Linked DNA regions of Homo sapiens: regions 1, 2 and 3 are each linked to region 4. Evidence: fine-mapped expression QTL. A gene starts in region 4. Each other region holds a variant in brackets. All regions are shown on one strand. Distances are between the middles of the regions.

Evidence for each region. PIP is the estimated chance that this variant, and not a neighbour inherited with it, causes the effect.
Region 1: its variant is fine-mapped to the expression of DPH5-DT in subcutaneous fat (GTEx, PIP 0.93).
Region 2: its variant is fine-mapped to the expression of DPH5-DT in substantia nigra (GTEx, PIP 0.90).
Region 3: its variant is fine-mapped to the expression of DPH5-DT in spleen (GTEx, PIP above 0.99). The same link has a PIP of 0.9 or more in coronary artery, subcutaneous fat, tibial nerve and transverse colon.

The regions. Positions count from the first base shown.
Region 1 is chr1:101,152,947-101,158,100 of GRCh38, reverse strand. The region is part of intron 1 of LOC101928334 (a long non-coding RNA gene); the gene reads right to left. Among named protein-coding and RNA genes, the nearest start is that of S1PR1-DT, 81 kb to the left of the region's middle. The variant C/AC (reference allele first, on the strand shown) is at 2,568.
Region 2 is chr1:100,816,342-100,821,495 of GRCh38, reverse strand. No RefSeq gene overlaps it. Among named protein-coding and RNA genes, the nearest start is that of EXTL2, 76 kb to the left of the region's middle. The variant T/A (reference allele first, on the strand shown) is at 2,481.
Region 3 is chr1:101,077,265-101,082,418 of GRCh38, reverse strand. It overlaps DPH5-DT (DPH5 divergent transcript), which reads right to left. Exons shown (of 5, transcript NR_109849.1): 3 at 4,911-5,056. Among named protein-coding and RNA genes, the nearest start is that of DPH5-DT, 54 kb to the right of the region's middle. RefSeq lists a silencer at 675-754. The variant C/T (reference allele first, on the strand shown) is at 2,493.
Region 4 is chr1:101,023,555-101,028,708 of GRCh38, reverse strand. DPH5-DT (DPH5 divergent transcript) reads right to left here and starts at 2,863. Exons shown (of 5, transcript NR_109849.1): 1 at 2,648-2,863. It overlaps DPH5 (diphthamide biosynthesis 5), which reads left to right and starts at 2,925. Exons shown (of 8, transcript NM_015958.3): 1 at 2,925-3,026; 2 at 3,243-3,400. The coding sequence starts at 3,266. RefSeq lists a silencer at 1,143-1,202 and enhancers at 2,994-3,103, 2,196-3,395.

The sequences.
Region 1 (5,154 bases), 130 kb before region 4:
AAAGTCATCTTTGCCCAGTCCTTCTCATTTGCTCTCTATAATCAATCAATCACCAAGTCCTCATTATTTTTTACACCCTTGGAGTAAAAAATACCTACTAGCTTTTGTTTTTCCCCCAAATAATAAGGCTTTGTTTACTTAAAAATTATATGAATAGTGCATGGTGTCTATTTTAAAATTCCAAAATGATGTGGAAAAATACAGAGAAAAAGGAAAAGCTATCTGCAATTCTACCATCCAGAAATAAGCATGTTTTAATATTTTATTGAAAGTCTTCTAGGTATCCCTACATATGCAGATATATGTTTTGCACACACACACACACACACACAAAAAGAATTTTACATAAAGTTGGCATGTTATACTTGAAGTTTGATAACCAGTTTTTACTTAATAATAGGTCACAGGCATTGTGATGCACAAACAACTTTCTATTTCAATATTATATATCTATGCAATAATTTTTAATCATTACCTAATATTCCAATAGGGGGATCTATAATAATTTATTAACAAACCTTTCGTTGAAAGAATTATTTTCTCAATTTTCATTGTTATTAACAGTTCCAAGATGAATACTTTGTACATATATCTGTACTGTATTCTGTGACTATCTTCACTAATATGATAATGAAGATTGTATTTTTATTTCCAGTATTTTTTTATCTTTGGTCAGGTTTTAACATTTTGGAGGTCATGTTTATTCTTTGATAAATTGCTGAGTTCATTTTTATATTAGAATACTTTTCTCTTATTGTTAAGAGCTCTTAATATATCCAGGATGCCAACCTTTCCCATCTTTCTTATCATTCATATCTCACAAGTGTTTTTTACAGTTTGTCCCTTACTTTTTAAACTTAATTTTATGATGTTTTGAAGAAGCAAAACCTTTACTGTTTACATAGTCAAATTTATCAATAATTCTTTTTTGGTTTATTTAGCTCTACTGATTTAATCTCCAAACATTCCTACTATCACCAACCTAGATCAGATCCTCTATCGTCTTTTATCCAGATACCTATAACAGTCTGGATTGGTCTCCCTGCTCCCAGTCTCTGTCTTTTGGAATCTGCACTCCATGCAGCTGTCAGAATGTCCTATTTAAAATGAAAATCTGGCCAGGTCATTCTTCTACCTGACTGTTTGTTCAGTGCTGTGTGTTCCAAGTTGGATATTCATACAGCCAATGCTATATGAGGTGGCTCTTCATAAAAATGAAATAAAACTAAAATAAAAACTAACTTCACTAATAAAACTAATAAAAACCGTTCTTAAATTCCAAAATGATGTGGAAAAATGCAGAGAAAAAGGAAACGTCATCTCCAATTCTACCATCAGAAATAAACATGTTTTAATATTTTATTGAAAGTCTGCTGGATATCTCTATATATGCAGATACATAATTTGCACATACCTGCAAAGAATTTCTCCCACAAAGAATGGAACATATTCCTGGAGCATTACTTATTTGTATAGATTTTTGAAGAAATAAAGTACATTATTTTATTTTAAGAAAAACACACGTATATGGAGCAGGATGCATGATCCCTATGAATTTGCAAAATATACTGGAAGACTTCAAAGAAATATTCGTATTTAGGTGAGCATGTTCAAAAGTCAATGGATATGGAGAATAAAGTTTTAAACCTCTTGACATGTGCAACAGAAACTGCCTTGCATTCGACAATATCCATTGCCTTTTCCTCTTGATCACATAGGATTTCCAGCATCCCTTGAAGTTAGGTGTGACCATGTGATTGAATTCTCACTCATAGAATATGGGAGAAATTAATGTGATCATGTAATTTATTGTCCAAACCGAGACACTGTTAAGAGTGAAAGAGGGCACTATTAATTGTTGTGCTGAGAATTCAGGCATAAACTGGGTCATATGATCACCATGGGAAGAACTGATGTGTGCCACTCCAGGGTGGACTCAGGCCTAACTCCTCCCTCTCTTCTCCAGGATGTAGGCAGATGCAGGAGGTCTAGCAGAAGACTCAATACTCTAGGTAGGGCCACAGTCTGGAAGGCTTGTGCTAAACTGTCAGGGAGTGTGAACTCCATTTCTGTTATTTCAAATCATTGTTCATTACAGCATCTTTGCTGGACTGACTTTCCACAATGTGCCCTCTCCCTACATCTCCAGCCTCTCCTTTCATCAGTCTTGAGCTTGAATTTAAACTCTAGCAAACTGAATGCTCATACATTTTTAAATGCCTGTTTATATGTCAGTTTTTCTCATTAGTCAAGGAGCTACTTGATGGTAAAAGCCTAATTATCTTCACAGCACTTACTACCTGGCATAGAATAGACTTCATAAATATCTGTTGAATGAAGAAATGTCTAGCCAAATGAGGAGTAAATCTTTCAATAGAGGTTATTTCACACCTGGAACTAAAAATACCAGAACTATACACCTAATGGAAGATATTATATCTGCAGACAAGTATTCAGATTCAAGATTTTATAAAAACAAGCTACACATTTTAGTAGTCCTAAAATACGAATGCAAAAATATTCTTCCTCTTTGCCTTCAGTGTTTTTTATTTTCACCCCCTTCCCCC[C/AC]GCCATGTGCAAGCACCCACACATTCACTCATTTCCTAGGGGAATATTTGACTTAATTAACAATTGTAGAATAAGTTAGAAAGAAAATAGAGAATTCAGATTTTAAGTTCAGATCCTAATGCTGGCCAATAATCCTTACATGAGGTGCTTTGGCTCAGCAGCGGGATTTACCTCTCCTCCCTCCCAAAGTGATTAAGAGTGTATGTATAATTGACAATGATGCACACTAGTGCATGTTATCAACTCAAGAAAGGGGCTTTGTCGCCTGATTTCCGTTAACCTTAATAGTAGTTAAGCTGCACACACAAAGCATAATGTCCTCATGCTTTAAAAAAGGAGGGGCTTTCATCACCTAGATTATGAAATATTGATTAATTCATGTATGCTCAGACATCCATCTAAAAATGGAATCATTCAATCTGTCATCCTTCTCCCTCATCCACATATAAAAACAAAATGCAATTCTGAGAAGAACAAAAGGAGTGATGAGAGGGTAGGAATTAGGAAGAAGGATAAGAGCAGACAAAGAAACAGGCTGAAAAATAAAACATGTCAAACTATGCTTACAGACAGACACGCCACATCCACACACAATCACACACACACAACAACCACTCTACTAATTAATACAGCTTGCTTTTGTGCCAGATATTAGGGACACATTAATTAGAGAGAAATCTCATTCATCCATTTTTCAGTTCATTAATTATGCATCAATGACAAATTCGTATTGGCCTGCTATAAGACAATCTGTTCCAACAAAGATCTGATGCTGCACATGACACAGCAGTTATGGGGCTTTCCTGCCTCTTTGGATGGTATTTGGGATCTACTCAATTCCTATGTGATGTGTATTTGTGTCCCCTACTGAGTATTCTGTGATTATGGAATGTCCTTTAAGCTGACTACAATTGTTTCTTAGCTAATACTTCATTCATCTCTGTCACAGGCACATTGAGAATCCCATTCAGCTAGACAAAAAGCAATGCAATATTGTGAATGTGCTTAATCCCACTGAATTATATACTTAAAAATGGTTAAAATGGTAAATTTTATATGATGTATATTTACCGCCATAAAGAAAGAAAGAAAAAAATTTTAAACCAAATGAACATGTCTATAAACTTTTAGAAAAGTTAAATTATATGGGGACTATAAAAGTGAAAAAAGAATTTGAAAGTTCTCGAACAGTCTCAGACCTCAGAATGTATTTCATTTTATGCAGAGAATATTATAAGATGAACTTCAGAGCCCAGACAACCTCCAATGTGCTGCCTGCAAAGGGATTTGGGGAAAGAAAGGATGTATGCGTATGAATGGCCTCATCAATAAATATTAACTGAGCATTCAGAAGAGTCTTAGCACTGTACTAGTTAATTTGGAGCTACCTATATTTAATTACATCTGTTCTCCTACCATACCATTCCTTATGTCCCTGGCTTATTTCTTTATCACTGCCTTGATGTCACAGCTCCCTCTGACCCAAGTACAAATAAAGGTGAAAAAATTCACCAGAGTTTGAGTAGTAAGCATATAAAAGTTTCTTTTTCATTGAATAAGTCTCACTTTCGAGGAGTCCTTCAGATCCATGAAGTGCCTCATACTTAATACTTACTACATAATAATACTTACTACAGAGTCACACTCTCAGTGGGCACACAGCAAATGTCAACTGACTCAATGACCTTTTCCCAACCCTTTGTATCAAGAGAGTCAGTATTAAATGTCATCAAATCCTATTTCACAGTGAAAGTTGATTGAACATGCAGTTTAGAGGGGAATTTTTAACTTAACACGTAACTAAAATTACTTCAGCAGTTGCTGTGTAGCATTGATTTGAGGCAAACTTCTGATTAATAAATTGAAACCTTTCAAAATGAAATCTTAAGAAAGAAAAATAGAAAAAATACAATAAAGTTTTTGTTAAATATTTTGCTCTTTGTCTAATTTTTCACTATATAAATACTGCTAATAGATATTTTTATAAAAATAAAAATAAACCATTAATACCCCAAAGAAAGCTGCATACCTTGTTAAAATCTGTTTTGTCACTTTCCCTTAAGCTTTCTTATTGTAAGTATTTATTTTTATCTAGATTTATTTAGTGAACAGACTGAGTTATTTAAATTCTCTTCATCATTGTATCTCCAGTTGTGTCCATATTTATCCAATTCCCCATCTCCAGTGAAGGCTTGTCTGGGTTTAGTTCAGCCTGAAAGAGGCCAAGAAAGAAGACAGGAGTGTCTCTTGCCCCATACTATATAATGTGTGGAACAAGAGGGAAAGCATCAAAGGTTACCTGAAGAAAACACTGCTGAGGTAAGAACATCTCAGGGTCCAAATGCTCATCTAAACAAGGCGGACCTAGGTGGTCAATGAGATCCTTGCTCATTAACTGGGAAACCAAGTGGCTAGAGAATAAAATGCAGGTCCAAATGGCTGGGCCACATTTTTGCATGTGTCTTAGCATCATGTTCTATGAGCAGATCCGGTTTATGTAATGAGGAGATCAAGATTGGGACAGATCATGTTCAAACATCCTCAACATGGGGCTACTAACATTTGTGTAATATTTTAAAGTTTTACG
Region 2 (5,154 bases), 210 kb after region 4:
TCCATTCTCCCTGTCACTTTCAGGTACACCAATCAAACATAGATTTGGTCTTTTCACATAGTCCCATATTTCTTGGAGGCTTTATTAGTTTCTTTTCACTCTCGTTTCTCTGATCTTGTCTTCTCACTTTATTTCATTAATTTGATCTTCAATCACTGATATCCTTTCTACCACTTGATCGAATCGGTTATTGAAGCTTGTGTATGCTTCACGAAGTTCTTGTACTGTGGTTTTCAGCTTCATCAGGTCATTGAAGCTCTTCTCTAAACTATTTTTTCTAGTTAGCCATTCATCTAACCTTTTTTCAAGGTTTTTAGCTTCCTTGCAATGGGTTAGAACATGGTCCTTTAGCTCAAAGAAGTTTGTTATTACTGACCTTCTGAAGCCTACTTCTGTCAACTCCTCAAACTCTTTCTCTATCCAGTTTTGTTCCCCTGCTGGCAAGGAGTTGTGTTCCTTTGGAGGAGGAGAGGCGTTCTGGTTTTTGGAATTTTCAGCCTTTCTGCCCTGGTTTCTCCCCATCTTTGTGGTTTTATCTACCTTTGGTCTTTGATGTTGGTGACCTACTGATGGGGATTTTGTGTGGATGTCCTTTTTATTGATGTTGATGCTATTCCTTTTTGTTTGTTACTTTTTCTTCTAACAGACAGGCCCCTCAGCTGCAGATCCACTCCAGACCCTGTTTGCCTGAGTATCACCAGTGGAGGCTGCAGAACAGCAAATATTGCTGCCTGATCCTTCCTCTGTAAGCTTCAGCCCAGAGGAGCACCTGCCTGTATGAGGTGTCTGTTGGCCCCTACTGGGAGATGTCTCCCAGTCAGGCTACACAGGGGTCAGGGACCCACTTAAGGAGGCAGTCTGTCCATTACTGGAGCTTGAATGCCGTGCTTGGAGAACCACTGCTCTCTTCAGAGCTGTCAGGCAGGGACATTTAAGTCTGCAGAAGCTGTCTGCTGCCTTTTGTTCAGATATGCCCTGCCCCAGAGGTGGAATCTAGAGAGGCAGTAGGCCTTGCTGAGCTGCAGGGGGCGCCACCCAATTCAAGCTTCCCTGCAGCTTTGTTTACGCTGCGAGCATAAAACTGCCTATCAAGCCTCAGCAATGGCAGACACCCCTTCCCCCGCCAAGCTCCCGCTTTGCAGGTTGATCTCAGACTGCTGCTGTAGCAGTGGGTAAGTCTCCATGGGTGTGGGACTCACCGAGCCAGGTACAGGAGGGGATCTCCTGGTCTGCCAGTTGTGAAGACTGTGGGAAAAGAGCAGTAATTTGGCAGGAGTGTACTGCTCCTCCAAGTACAGTCACTCTTGGCTTCCCTTGGCTAGGAAAGGGAAATCTCCCGACCCCTTGCACTTCCTGGGTGAGGTGATGCCCCCGCCCTGCTTTGGCTCACCCTCTGTGGGCTGCAACCAATGTCGAACTTGTCCCAATGAGATGAACCAGGTACCTCAGTTGGAAATGCAGAAATCACCCATCTTCTGCATTGATATCACTGGGAGCTGTAGATCGGAAATGTTCCTATCTGGCCATCTTGGAAGTGTCTTCCCAATAAATAAGTCTTGAGCTTAAGAGGATTTAAATAACGAGAGTATATTCTGACCACAACAGAATTAAACCATAAATTAATAATATATCTAAAAAGTATCCTAAATATTTAGCTATTAAACCATATACTTTACATGTACTTTAAATAACTCATGGATCAAAGAAGAAATCATAAGGGAATTTAGAAAATATTTTCAAGTGAATGAAAACAAAAACAAAATCTAGAGAATTCTTCTAAATCAGTGCTTGTAGCAGAAATTTTATATCATTAAATGCTTATATTAGAAAAGAAGATTTAAAAATCAATGATCAAAGTTTCCACCTTTTTTGCTCCTACAAAAAAAGTACATTAAATTCAAATAAAGAAAAAAAGAATCCATAAAGGTAAGAGCAGAAATCACTGAAATAAAAAACAGAGTAACAATAGGGAAAAGCAATGAAACCCAAAGCTAGACCTTTGTAAAGAACAATAGAATTGTTAACTTTCTAGGTCAGTCGTTCTTAACCAGAGGTAATTTTGCCTCCCAGAGGACACTTAATGATGTCTAGAGACATTTTTGTTGCCACAGTTGGGAGGTGGTACTGGAATGTAGAGGTCAGGAAAGCTGCCAAACATCCTACAATGCACGGGGCAGTCTCCCACAACCAAGAATGTCACTAGTACCCTAGTTGCCTCCCCACCCTAATGTCATTAGTATTGATTGTTATTGAGAAACTTCCCTAGTCAGACTCCTGTCAACCCTGAGAATGCAAAGTTGTATTTGTATTTAAATAAATCAATGCAATTTTTCATAATAGCACATAAAAACATCATCTCAATAGATGAATAAAATGCATGTGACACCCACTGTAATTTTTTAAAAATTTGTATTCAACTAGGAATAAAGGGAAACTTTCTTCACCTGAAAATATTTATCTAGGCAAAAGCTACAGCTAAC[T/A]TTATACTTAATAGTGAAAGGAAATTGCTTTCCCTCTAAGTTCAGGAAAAAGGCAAGGATGTTTGCCCTCACCACTTTTATTTAACATTGCACTGCATGTCTTAGCCAATACAATAAGGACAAACAGGGATAAAAACCATATATATTAGTAGGAAAGAAGTAAAACTATTCTCAGATAATATGATCACCTATCTAGAAAATTCTAAGGGCTTTCCAAAAAGCTACTAAAGCTAATAAGTGAATTTAGCAAGATTACAAGAGAAATGCAAAAAGCGATTATATTTCTATAATAACAATGAATTGTTGAAAATTACTGTTTTACCTCCACAAAAAATATTTGCCAAACCCTGCTGTAGACATTATTCTATGTCTTGCTTCTTTTCACATCAAACTTCTTAAAAAAGTAGCACATAATTTCCTTACCTCCCTTTCACTCCTCAAACCAAATGCCATTTGATTTCTGTCCTCAGCCCTCCACCTGAATATGCTTGAATCAAGATTACTAGTGAACACTTAGTTGCCAATCCAAACGATGTTTTTCAGTTTTTTTTTCCTATGTAAGTTATTATCATCATTTGACACTATGGACTATGTCCTCCTTTTTAAAAAATTTTTATTTATGTATTTAATTATTTATTTTATTTTATTTTTATTTCCATAGATTATTGGGGAAAGGTAGTGTTTGGTTACATGAGTACGTTCTTTAGTGGTGATTTGTGAGATTTTGGTGCACCCTTCACCCGAGCAGTACACACTGCACCCTATTTGTAGTCTTTTATCCTTCACCCCCTTCCCACCCTTCCCCCCTGAGTTCCCAAAGTCCATTGTGTCATTCTTATGCCTTTGTATTCTCATAGCTTAGTTCCTACTTATGAGTGAGACTATATGATGTTTGGTTTTCCATTCCTGAGTTACTTCACTAAGAATAATAGTCTCCAATTTCATCCAGGAGGCTGTGAATGCCATTAATTCATTTTTTATGGCTGAGTAGTATTCCATCATATATACATATATGTGTGTATATATATACACACATATATGTACATGTGATATATATGTATATATACATATATGTACATGTGATATATATGTGTGTGTATGTATATGTGATATATATGTGTGTGTATGTATATGTGATATATACATATATGTATATGTGAGATATATATATATATATATATATATATATATATATATATATATATCACAGTTTCTTTATCCACTCATTGATTGATAGGCATTTGGGTTGGTTCCACCTTTTTGCAATTGCGAATTGTGCTGCTATAAACATGAGTGTGCAAGTATCTTTTTCATATAATGACTTCTTTTCCTGTGGATAGATAACCAGTACTGAGATTTTTCCTCTGTGTAGATAACCAGTACTGAGATTGCTCGATCAAATGGTAGTTCTACTTTTAGTTCTTTAAGGAATCTCCACATTGTTTTTCATAGTAGTTGTATCAGTTTACAATCCAATCAGCAGTGTGGAAGTGTTCCCTGCTAACTATATCCATGCCAACATGTACTATTTTTTGATTATGGCAATTCTTGCAGGAGTAAGGTTATCACACTGTGGTTTTGATTTGCATTTCCATGATCATTAGTGATGTTGAGCATTTTTTCATGTGTTTTTTGGCCATTTGTATATCTTCTTTTGAGAATTGTCTATTTATGTCCTTATCCCTTTTTGGTGGGATTGTTTGTTTTTTTCTTGCTGATTTGTTTGAGTTCCTTGTAGATTCTGGATATTAGTCCTTTGTCAGATGTATAGATTGTGAAGATTTTCTCCCACTCTGTGGGTTGTCTGTTTACTCTGCTGACTGTTCCTTTTGCCATGCAAAAGCTCTTTAGTTTAATTAAGTCCCAACTATCTATCTTTGTTTCTATTGCATTTGCTTTTGGGTTATTGGTCATGAAATCCTTGCCTAAGCCAATGTCTAGAAGGGTTTTTCCAATGTTATCTTCTAGAATTTGTAGAGTTTCAGATCTTAGATTTAAGTCCTTGATTTTTGTATAAGGTGAGAGATGAGGATTCAGTTTCATTCTTCTATGTGTGGCTAGCCAATTATCCCAGCACCATTTGTTGAAAAGGGTGTCTTTTCCTCACTTTATGTTTGCTTTGTCAAAGATCAGTTGGCTGTAAGTATTTGGGTTTATTTCTGGGTTCTCTATTCTGTTCCATTGGTCTATGTGTCTATTTTTATACCAATACCATGCAGTTTTGGTGACTATGACCTAATAGCATAGTTTGAAATCAGGTAATGTGCTGCCTCCAGATTTGTTCTTTTTTCTTAGTCTTGCTTTGGCTATGCAGGCTTTGTTTTGGTTCCATATGAATTTTAAAATTGTTTTTATTCTAATTCTGTGAAGGATGATGGTGGTATTTTGATGGGAATTGCATTGAATTTGTATAGTGCTTTTGGCAATATGGTCATTTTCACAATACTGATTCTACCCATTCATGAACATGAGATGTGTTTCCCTTTGTTTGTGTCATCTGTGATTTCTTTCAGCAGTGTTTTGTAGTTTTCCTTGTAGAGATCTTTCACCTCCTTGATTAGGTATATTCCTAAGTATTTACTTATTTATTTATTTATTTTTGCAGCTATTGTAAAAGGGGTTGAGTTCTTGATTTGATTTTCCGCTTGGTCACTGTTGGTGTATAGAACAGCTA
Region 3 (5,154 bases), 54 kb before region 4:
GTCTCTTGGCTCTTCTTCTGCTGATATTGGCACCAAAGAAATTAGGTTATAACTATTGTTTCTTTTTGTGGCTGAAGAGACATTTCCAAGTACAGAATGAATGGAGTTCATTCAGAAGCCTTGCAAATGGGCTGTGGCCCCTTTTTTTATGTATAATAGGCCCAGCAAGGATATTTAGGACAAAACCAAGTTTTATTTTTAACCAGTTGGCAAGGTCTTCACATTTTAAAGGAGCTCCACACGCTAGATTTACTTAGGCTTATCTGTTCTTTCATCACAATTTCTATAGAAGAATATTAAGGATGCCAGAGAGTTGCCCACTTAGGGAAGGCAGATAGTTTTTTTAAAATAACAAGATAAATCATATGTTGCTTAAAACCTAAATTACAGAGGACATAGGAATTTCCAGTAGACTAAACTTGTCACAGTGACATGAAACAATAATATTTGAGGAAAAAAAAAAAAGAAAAAAAGAGCTTAGTGGAGAAGCAAGTCACTGGGAAAGGGAAAAAGCTTAAAAGTCACGCATATTTAAAGAAAACTAATGTTTTGTCATTGTTTCAGCCACATCTGAGTACATTAGAATTTAACGTACTTAAAAAAATTTTTAAAGGCAAAACATACAACAGTTGGGAGACAAAGTGGTTGTAACCCACTTCCTCCACACCCTCTTGATACTTAACATTGATACTTTGTGTGGTCTTTGGCTTATGCAGTATCCTGTCTCATTATGACTGGACTATTAAGAATCAAGTAACTGTCCCTGGGCGTGGTGGCGGGTGCCTGCAGTTCCAGCTACTCGGGAGGCTGGGGCTGGAGAATCCCTTGAGCTCAGGGGCTCGAATCTAGTCTGGACAACATAGTGAGACCCCCCGTCTCTAGAAAACAAACAAACAACAACCAAAAACACCCAAACACAAACACACAAAAGAATCCAGAATCAAATAATGGTCATCAACAATACAATATCCAACGGTAGTTCCTTTTTTTTTTTAAACGCACAGAACAACCTTTTGAAGGTGCCAAATTTAAAGATGGTAAAGTAACAGAGAAGTAAACTGTAACCTAATTGCTATGGCTTCAGAATAACCCAGTCAAAAGACTTTCAACATGAAAGGAAAGGAATTTAAATTAGTTGCCCTTGAGTTCAATATTTAAAGGTTCTGTATTTTTTTTCCTACTTTAGCAAGGGAACAAATATAGTCCTAGATTGGTCCAGGGGTGTATCTCCCCTTCTCAAAGTAATTTGCAGGTTGGACTACAAAGGAGATATAGTAACCCAATGAAAACAGTAGAAGCAAGACAGGTTCTTGGCATCTGCTTATGCTGCCGCCTGTATTTCTGCCCATGTTGGCTCAGGCCAAACAGTGCAGCATCCAGTGGACGGCTGAGGGACCTGTGTCCTCCACACTTCGCTCACCAGCAGGGAGTCATTATTACTCCTTCACATTGGGTACTTTTGAAGCACTTGATAGAAGCTCTTCTTAATGGAAATACTGAGGATTAAAGAACAATTCTGAGACTCAATCATTCTGAAGGGAAAAAAACACAATTGTCTAAGTCAGGGGAAACCATCTCTGACAGATGTTCTGCTAAAAGAGAAGACAGCTCCTCTTTTCTACATGATTCTCGAGGGCTAAAGGCTGCAGAGAGATACTGCTAATTAATTCCTCCATGTTTTCATGAAGGAAATATTTATCAAACATATCTAGAGCCATATTTTATAAGTAGTGTTTAGTTACTGTGTGTATATTCTAAGCATTTTATTATATAATAATATATACTGTGGAAGTAATAGTATTTACCTCACTGGGTTGTGGAGAGTATCTAACTCAGTGAGTTGTGAGATAATAAACATAAAGTGCTCATAAGCCATAATCCTGGTGCACTGCAATTGCTCAGTAGATGGTCATTCATGTTATTGGTGTTATGGAAGCTGCTAATGTAAAGCTTTATTTCTGGGTCCAGAAAGAAGTTGCCTTTACTGGAGATATCAAAGGCTAAATAGTAACACTGACGTTTAACAGGATCTGGAAAAAAAGAGAAATTTTTGACTCAAAGGGATTTATAAGGTTTCGAACCACCCTAAAACTTAAGATTTCTGGTATGCTGTGGAATTCCTGAAGTTTGTGAGAGACTTGCACTTTCAGGAATTTAGGCTTTGATGTTGAATTAGGAAATTTGAATCCTGGCTCCATTACTTATTCTTTGTATACTTTAGCTCTCTTATGTGTAAAATGAGGCTAATAATTCTACCTACACGTCAGAGTTTTTGAGAGAACAATATATGTAAATACTTAAAACAGTGCTTGGTACTTAGCTAGACATATCTCAAATCACTACCATCATGATCACCAAATGGCAGAATTGACAAATGGGATTTGTGTCTTGCTGCCTCAGATTATCTTTGATTTTCCATACTCTTTGATGTCTAAAATAATTTTGATTCCTATTATTCTATAGCTAAATATTCTAACATGAGGCAATTACTA[C/T]CCTTTCTGTTTCTAAATTGGAAGGATATCTTACAACACAATATTGCAAGGAAAATAACCACACATTGGTAGGTTCAAAGAAAAGAAGAGGAGAAACCATTAGGAAATGAAGGCACCTTGTCCATCTTAGGGGATGCTCACTCCTATCCTTCATTTTGCTTCTATCAGCTCTCAGTTTTCCCTCCTTCTCCATTGCGCCTCCAGTCTTAGTCTACATGACATTTAAGCCAAAAGTCATTCATAACATTTGTTTGTTTGTTTGTTTGTTCTTGAGAGACTCCTGGTGGCTTAGTTTGCCCTCTAATAGATTGCTATGGTAACACTTGTTTCCGTTTGTCTACCACTCTCCCTGCATCCTCTTAACTCCAAATTCTGATTTAAAAAAAAAAAAAAAGGAACCACCTGTTTCCTGAGCACAGAATTAGATTATTGAATCAAGCTGGCTTACACAGATCCTTCGAATTTGAGTCTTAAGTGGAGGTGCCTTGGGGTGCTCTGGGTCAAAGAGTTCATGAGTTCTCAATGCTCGAGTCCTCAGAATTGTCCTGGTTTCTAACCTCCTGAAGCTTGCTTGTTCAGTGATACCTTTCTGTGAGCTACTCTAATAATTCTCGTGTTTAAGATGGTCTCTGTTGCATACGCACCTTTCTGCTTTTTGCAACCAAAAAAGAAAAAAAACCTATGTGGCTGTGTGGCTGAGTTCCCTTGGGGGAATTTAATCAGCCATCAGCTTTGGTCAACTAGGGGCTTACACAAGACAAATTAATCTGGAGGAGATGTTAAGGGTGGTAAGTAATTTGATATATCCATAACAGGGGAAAATGGTAGTTATAAGAAAAGAATCAGACTTGTGTCTACATCTACTACAGTCTTAGCAGAATATAACAAACCCCATTTAATTAAATTCCATTTAAGTCAATAGGCATTACAATTAGGCATTCACTAGATAAGCACTTGGGGGATATTTAGACGGATAAGGCTAAAATTTTGCTCTCAAGTAATGGCTAGTCTGGGGGAAGACTACATGTACACATATAAGTATAATACAAGGCAAAATATGCTGACTACTGTGATAAGATCAAATAAAAACACTTTGGGAGGCCGAAGCGGGCGGATCACGAGGTTAGGAGATTGAGACCATCCTGGCTAACACGGTGAAACCCCGTCTCTACTAAAAATACAAAAAATTAGCCAGGCGTGGTGGCGGGCGCCTGTAGTCCCAGCTACTCGGGAGGCTGAGGCAGGAGAATGGCGTGAACCCGGGAGGCGGAGCTTGCAGTGAGCCGAGATGGTGCCACTGCACTCCAGCCTGGGCAACAGAGCGAGACTCTGTCTCAAAAAAATAAATAAATAAATAAATAAATAAATAAATAAATAAATAAAAACATAGAGGAAAGAACAATTAATTTGGGTTATAGCATTAGCCAAACAGGTCAGCCTGCTGAAAGATTCAAATAGCATGTTGCAAGCCACCAATACAAAGGAGAGAAGAAGCCCTTTTAAAGAGCTGTGGCATTTTGAGATCTTGAGTAACATACAAATGGAAAAAGACTCCTCAGGTTTGTAGGCACTTGAGAAATATTGCTTTCTCACTTCTTACCTCATTTAAGTACAGGTCTAAGTAAAGGTCTGTAGAGGCAAAAATCCTTTCTTACCAATAAGTGAGTCCTTCCCTAACCCTAGTCTTGGGCTGGTAGGAAGTATCCCTATTCAGTGTCCCATTTCCTCACCAAGAGTGTTTTCCATTCCTGAGTTAGTTCAACAAGGGTAAAATCTGGATTAATGGCCCCCACGTCTTTGAAGTCAAGAAATGTACATTATTTTTTCCCAGATCTTAAATCTGGTGACTCAGCACAAATTCTAGCCTTGCATGTATCCCTCAACCAGACCGAGTATCCATTGCATGAACAATGACCCACGGACACCAGTGTAACCCCTGCCTCCTCACCTCCTGCACTGGCCCTGCAGAACTGAGATTCTGCCTTTTACGTAGCCTTTTTGCCTGAGAACAAGTTAGCCTAATTCTTGGCAGTCTTCTCTCTGGTTATGGCAGTGGAGTCTCTACCATGTGTTTTAAACCCTAGTTCAACAAGCAATTCTGTTAGAACCCGACTAATATCCTCCTTACAATGGAGCAGGTGTTGGCAAACTTCTTTAAAGAGCCAGATAGTGTATATTCTAGGCTTTGAGGGCCAGAAGGTTTCTGTCACAAGTATTCTGGCATTTTAAGTCCTAAAGCAGCCATAGACCACATTTAAATGAATGGGTGGAGCAGTAGTCTAATAAAACTTCACTTATAAAAAGAGGCAATGATTTGGCCCTTGAGTATAGTTTGAAGACCCCCTGCTTTTCAGCATCACTGTTCATGCATTCAGAATTCCTTATTCCCATGACCCATCTGTTTGCGAGAAAGCTCACCTTAATCTTTCCCAATCCTCCTTTATTTGCAAAGGTGTAGGCTTGCCCATCTCAGTTACAATATTCAAGACGTCCATGTACCTTACTTCAGTTCCTGGTATACTCCAGAGCCCACATGAACATTTATGCATACCCTATCATTCCATCTAGAGCCAAAGTAAAAAAAGAGAAGCGAGAAGTAGTGGTATGTATATAGTTATTAGCAGTTTGAGGGAAAAGAAAACAAAACAAAACCAAACAAAAA
Region 4 (5,154 bases):
AGTTCCTCTGGCTACATTTTGAAGCTTAAAAACAAATTATTACTGTTATTTCAGGCAATGTTTCACTTCCTTGATTACCCAGAATAACTTTATTTTCAATATAGATATATTTCCTGAAAGGAGATAAACCACACCTTCTTCAGATTACTTAATCATCCTTTTTGGCAGTGTCCTTGCACTGTGAATCTACCTGAAATTATTATTTTTTTAAATCTGAAAACAAAAAACATAAATGATCAACACATTGGAAAATGTGTTTACCTACTCAATAGCATGCATATGAACTATATGTTTTGTGTGTTGCAAGCCTTTCAATACAAATGACCTTCTAAAGTGGCATGAGACAGGCATATTTATATTTGATATTCCATTAATGATTTTTTTGGTAGTTTTTTAAAACATACCACCCTCTGTATTAATAAAGATGGAAAAATACGTAGCTCAGCTACTAGTGGATAATAATGATTTATTCAACAAACATTTATTTAATACCTATTATGTGCAAGGGATAGTGCTAAACCTAAGATGAGCATACAAATAAGATGCAGTCCCTGAATTAACTAAATCAATAGTTTGGTAAAGAAGAAATACAAATGAACAAATATAAAATCTCATAAATTGGTTAGTAAGTATATGTAGAGTAATACTGTAATGAAGAGGAGAAACCTAAATTAGCTTAGGGGGGTGAGGGTCTCTGGGAAGGCTTCCTGAACTTGGTCTTAAAGAATGGGTATTAGTGATCTAGGCAGGAGAGAATGGGAGACAATATTCTATGATGAGGCAGCAGCGTAGAGGAACAAAGCAGCATGTTGTGGGCAGAGAACTACAAGCAATTCAGTATTGCTGGAGAGAAAGCGAGAAAGCTCATGGTATGGAGTGGAGAGAGATGATGCTAAAAAGGTAGGCAGTGGCCACACCACGAATGATCTTGTGGGGTATGTTAACAAACCTGGACTTTCTCTTGGCCTCAGAAGGATCTAGAAGGGGTGTAATATTTTCAGATTGTTAACTATAACTCTCTGACCCCCTTGAGTGAAGGAGACATTATTATCAGCTACAAGAGTGACAAAATGAGGACCTGAGAATCAAGATGGTGATAGACGGTATGGTTTCTATTGAGATATACAGGCAGACATGACAGACGATGTGGGGGTGACTCCCAAGTGTCTGGCTGGGGTTAATCTGTTGATGACAATACTCTCCTCACCCACCCCCACCCCCGACCCATCCAAGTAGATAATATGGAAAGAAAAGCAAAATGGAAAGGGAAGGTGATGGATTCAACCTTGGATGTGTTGAATATGCTTCCGGGTTATCTAGGTGAAGATTTCCAGCAGAACGTTAACATGAAGCCAAGAGGGAGGAAGTCTGGATAGGAGGCTGAAATTTGAATCTACAAAATATTAGCGATACTAGGAATTCTGAGTGAACAGCCAGTTTTTGTGAGGTTTTGTTTGTTTTACTTAAGCCATTCTAATAGGTGGGTTGTGGTAGCTCATTGTGATTTAAATGTTTATTTTCCTAATGTCTAATGATGTTTAGGATCTTTTTTTGTTTGTTTAAGATCTTTTAAAATAATTATTTGCTATTTGTGTATCTTCTTTGGTGTCTATTCAAATCTTTTGCCCATTTTTAAACAACGAACTGTTTTATTATTGCTTTCTGAGTGCTCCTTATATATTCTCCATACAAGTCCTTCATCAGATACATGCTTTGTAAATATTTTCAGTATGTGGCTTCAAGTCTTTTGAAGAGCATAAATTTTTACTTTGTTGAAGTCCAATTTATCAATTTTTTTCATCACGCTTTTGGTTTAAGAAATATTTGCCTAAATAAGGTCACGAATATTTCCTCCTATGTTTTCTTCTGGTATAGGTTTAGGTTTTCCATTTACATCTACGATCCATTTTGAGTTTTTTGGGGTGTGTATGTGGTGTGAGGAATAGATCAACGTAATGAGAGGGGATAAAACACAGCCACGAAGAGTTTATAGATAGGAAGTGCAAAAAGGTGGATGGAACCTGGGAATGAAAAAAAGCCAAGGTTCAAGGAAGCGGAGTTGGGCATTGTCGGGGAGGCAACAGGAAAATTCTGAGTAACCAACACTGCCTGCTAAGAAAAGCAATGACAGCTGTCTTTTTTAACTTGGATGAGGTCACCTTGGGAAGAGCATTTTCAGTCAAAACAAATCTTCCCTATTTCTAATTACATGTAACCAACAGCTTTATAAGAATTCCCCCGGCAGAAACACTTGAGAGGTCTGAAATCCCTGAGCACTATTAAAGGTCACTTCTTTAGGTACAGGAAGGTCTGGGATTCCTGACACTGAGGGTGACTGAAACATCCTTGGGGCACTCCAGGCATAAGGTCTTGGGGACAAACCCAAGGAGTCATTGCCTTGTTGGGAAATCAGAAGCACACTCACTGCTGGGTTTGCCAATCTCACGCTTCACCAGGAAGACACCTAGTTGAACTACAGGAGGATGAGAAGACTGGAATTAAAATCTGTGCACTCGGCCAAATCCGGGGACAAATCAGGAAAATCCTTCCCAGCCCTCCCTGTTTCTGGAGAGGAGGAGTAGGGCGCAGGGCCCCTCCCGACTCTCTTCCACGTGGCTCCTCTCGAGCGAAGAGCTACTGCACTTACCCAGGCTTAGGAAGCGGGTGTTTAAGCCATGGGTTAGAGGGCTCGTGAGCACGCCCGATCCTTTCCCTGAGGCTATGAAACGGTGGCTCCACGGACTCCTCTCGGCCGACTGACCTTTCGCCGCCCTGCCCCAGCAGCCGGCGGGTTTCTTCAGTGGAGCCGGGCTCTGGTCTCCGCAGCCCAGTAGCCCGCTAGCCCGGCCCCCTCCCGCTAGTCGTAAAGTGCAGTAAAGGCACCAGCATTTTGCGGCACCGTAGGTGAGGCCGGCGGCGTGGGCCTTTTCTCTGCACGGAGCCGGCGCTTTTGCAGTTGCTTCTGCGGAAAGGTGGTAGTTAAGAATTTGTAAAGGCCAGAGAACTACCTACGATTCTCTCAGCGGGTAATTGGCTGCTCCTAGGTTTGTGTAACAAGAGGCAAAACTGGTAGGGTTGTTTAAAACCTCTTATCCCAGTTCTTAAGCGTGACATAAGGTTCCCAAACCCCTCCTTGTGACTTGCCTCTTCTCTTGTGCTACTTTGGTTGTCATCGTGTTCATCACTAGATTTTAGATGTCCTCGGTGTTACTGACGGTTTTTCTGTCCACTTCGTCTTGCAGTCTCTCTTCTCCTCAAGTTTGAAATGCTTTATCTCATCGGGTTGGGCCTGGGAGATGCCAAGGACATCACAGTCAAGGGCCTGGAAGTTGTTAGACGCTGCAGTCGAGTGTATCTGGAAGCCTACACCTCAGTCCTAACTGTAGGGAAGGAAGCCTTGGTAGGTGCTGAGCGTTCCCCAGCCTCCTGGGAAGAAAGCTATCTAACATCTGATTTTCATACACTAAGCTGAACAGAATTTTCAGGTCTGCTTGTTTAAACCCTTTGAAACGCATCCCTTGTTCATTAATGATCTGAGGAGCAGAAGAATGGAAATTTTACACCAACCAAGTGACTTGGAAAATGAAAGGGTGCTTTGTCCTATTTTACAAGTCTAATTTTGTGGCTTTCTCCAGTAAATAGGAAAGCTATTTTATACTCCTGGGGGATAGTTATCAAAACCCCTTATTTCATGAGGTAGTCAAGAAACCCTTTCTGAGTTGAGTGCTAATGAGGAGCTGACACAGCCTTAATGAGTTGGTTATATATATTCAAAAACCAAGCTGAAAGCTTCCCCCTTTGAAGTGTGTCCATAGGGAATGGCGATTGCCTTTTTGTATCCTATCCAGAGAGATCTTATCTTAAATAGACTATCTCCCAATAAGGCTTATACTGATACACTTGTATATATTGAGTGAGCCTGGACTTAATATATAAAAATGTATGAGTATACACTTACATGAGTATACACTAAGTAACCAAAGTATTTGTTAGTATATTATACATTTATAGTTGGCCCTCATAAGGGCCCAGTAAATTTGGGGGAAGGGTCAACTTCAGGTTCATTGTCAAACTCTAAGTAGAATGTAAATCAAAGGATTAATACATATGTTATGGGAGGAGGGAGCAGATTTATTGTCATGTCTTCCAAACAAAAAATAGACTTAAAATTTTTAGGCCTCAGATTACTTTAAAATCTTATAGAAGGAATTAAGAACTGCTACTTGAATTGGCCATGCATTTAAATAAAAGTTGTGTGTAAAGACCAACTTTGATATATACATATATGTGGAGAGAGAGAGAAAATAAGTCTTGCTCTGTTGCCCAGGCTGGGGTGCAATGGTATGATCATGGCTCACTGCAGCCTCAGCCTCCTGGGCTCAAGTATCCTCCCACCTCAACCTCTCGAGTAGCTGAGACTACAGGTGGGTGCCATCATGCCCAGCTAATTTTTTGTATTTTTTGTAGAGACAGGGTTTTGCCACATTGCCCAGGCTGGTCACAAGTTCCTGGACTCTAGTGATCTGCCCACCTCGGCCTCCTAAAGTGCTGGGATTGTATAGGCACAAGCAACCACACCCAGCCTAAGGCCAGCTTTGATTTAAAAAACATTTTTTTTTCTCATTTTTTCACTCTTAGGATAGAACCAAAATATCTAAGCTCGAAATGATGGAAATGTGCGTCTCTAATCAGTGATTAAGGAAAAGTAAAAGGAACTTAACACCTTCAAGAAAAGACAGACAAATAACAAAACAGCAGTTTGATAGAATGAGATATCAGGGGATGGCATAGAGGAAAGTTTGGTTATAGTTTTATCTTTGTTACATGTTAATGTGACCTTGGACAAGTCCTTTAACTTTAGTGTCTTTTTTAAATGGGGTAAAAAACATCTACTTTAGGTGTTCAGCATAATTCTTAGCATAGGTTCTTAACTATGGTATATGGCACAAAACTGTTCAGAAATAGAAATTGTCAATGTTCACATTTCCAAACTTCTCTGAACCTCAGTTTCTTCATTTGTCAAGTGGCAATTACCAGTTGGAGGGTTATGTAGTGTTTTATTGAGATGATGTATATGAAAGTGCTTTGTAAATTTTCAGTGCTAGCTAAATGTTAATTTTGGCTGCTGTTATTTTGTAAAGTATTTTTTTCCAA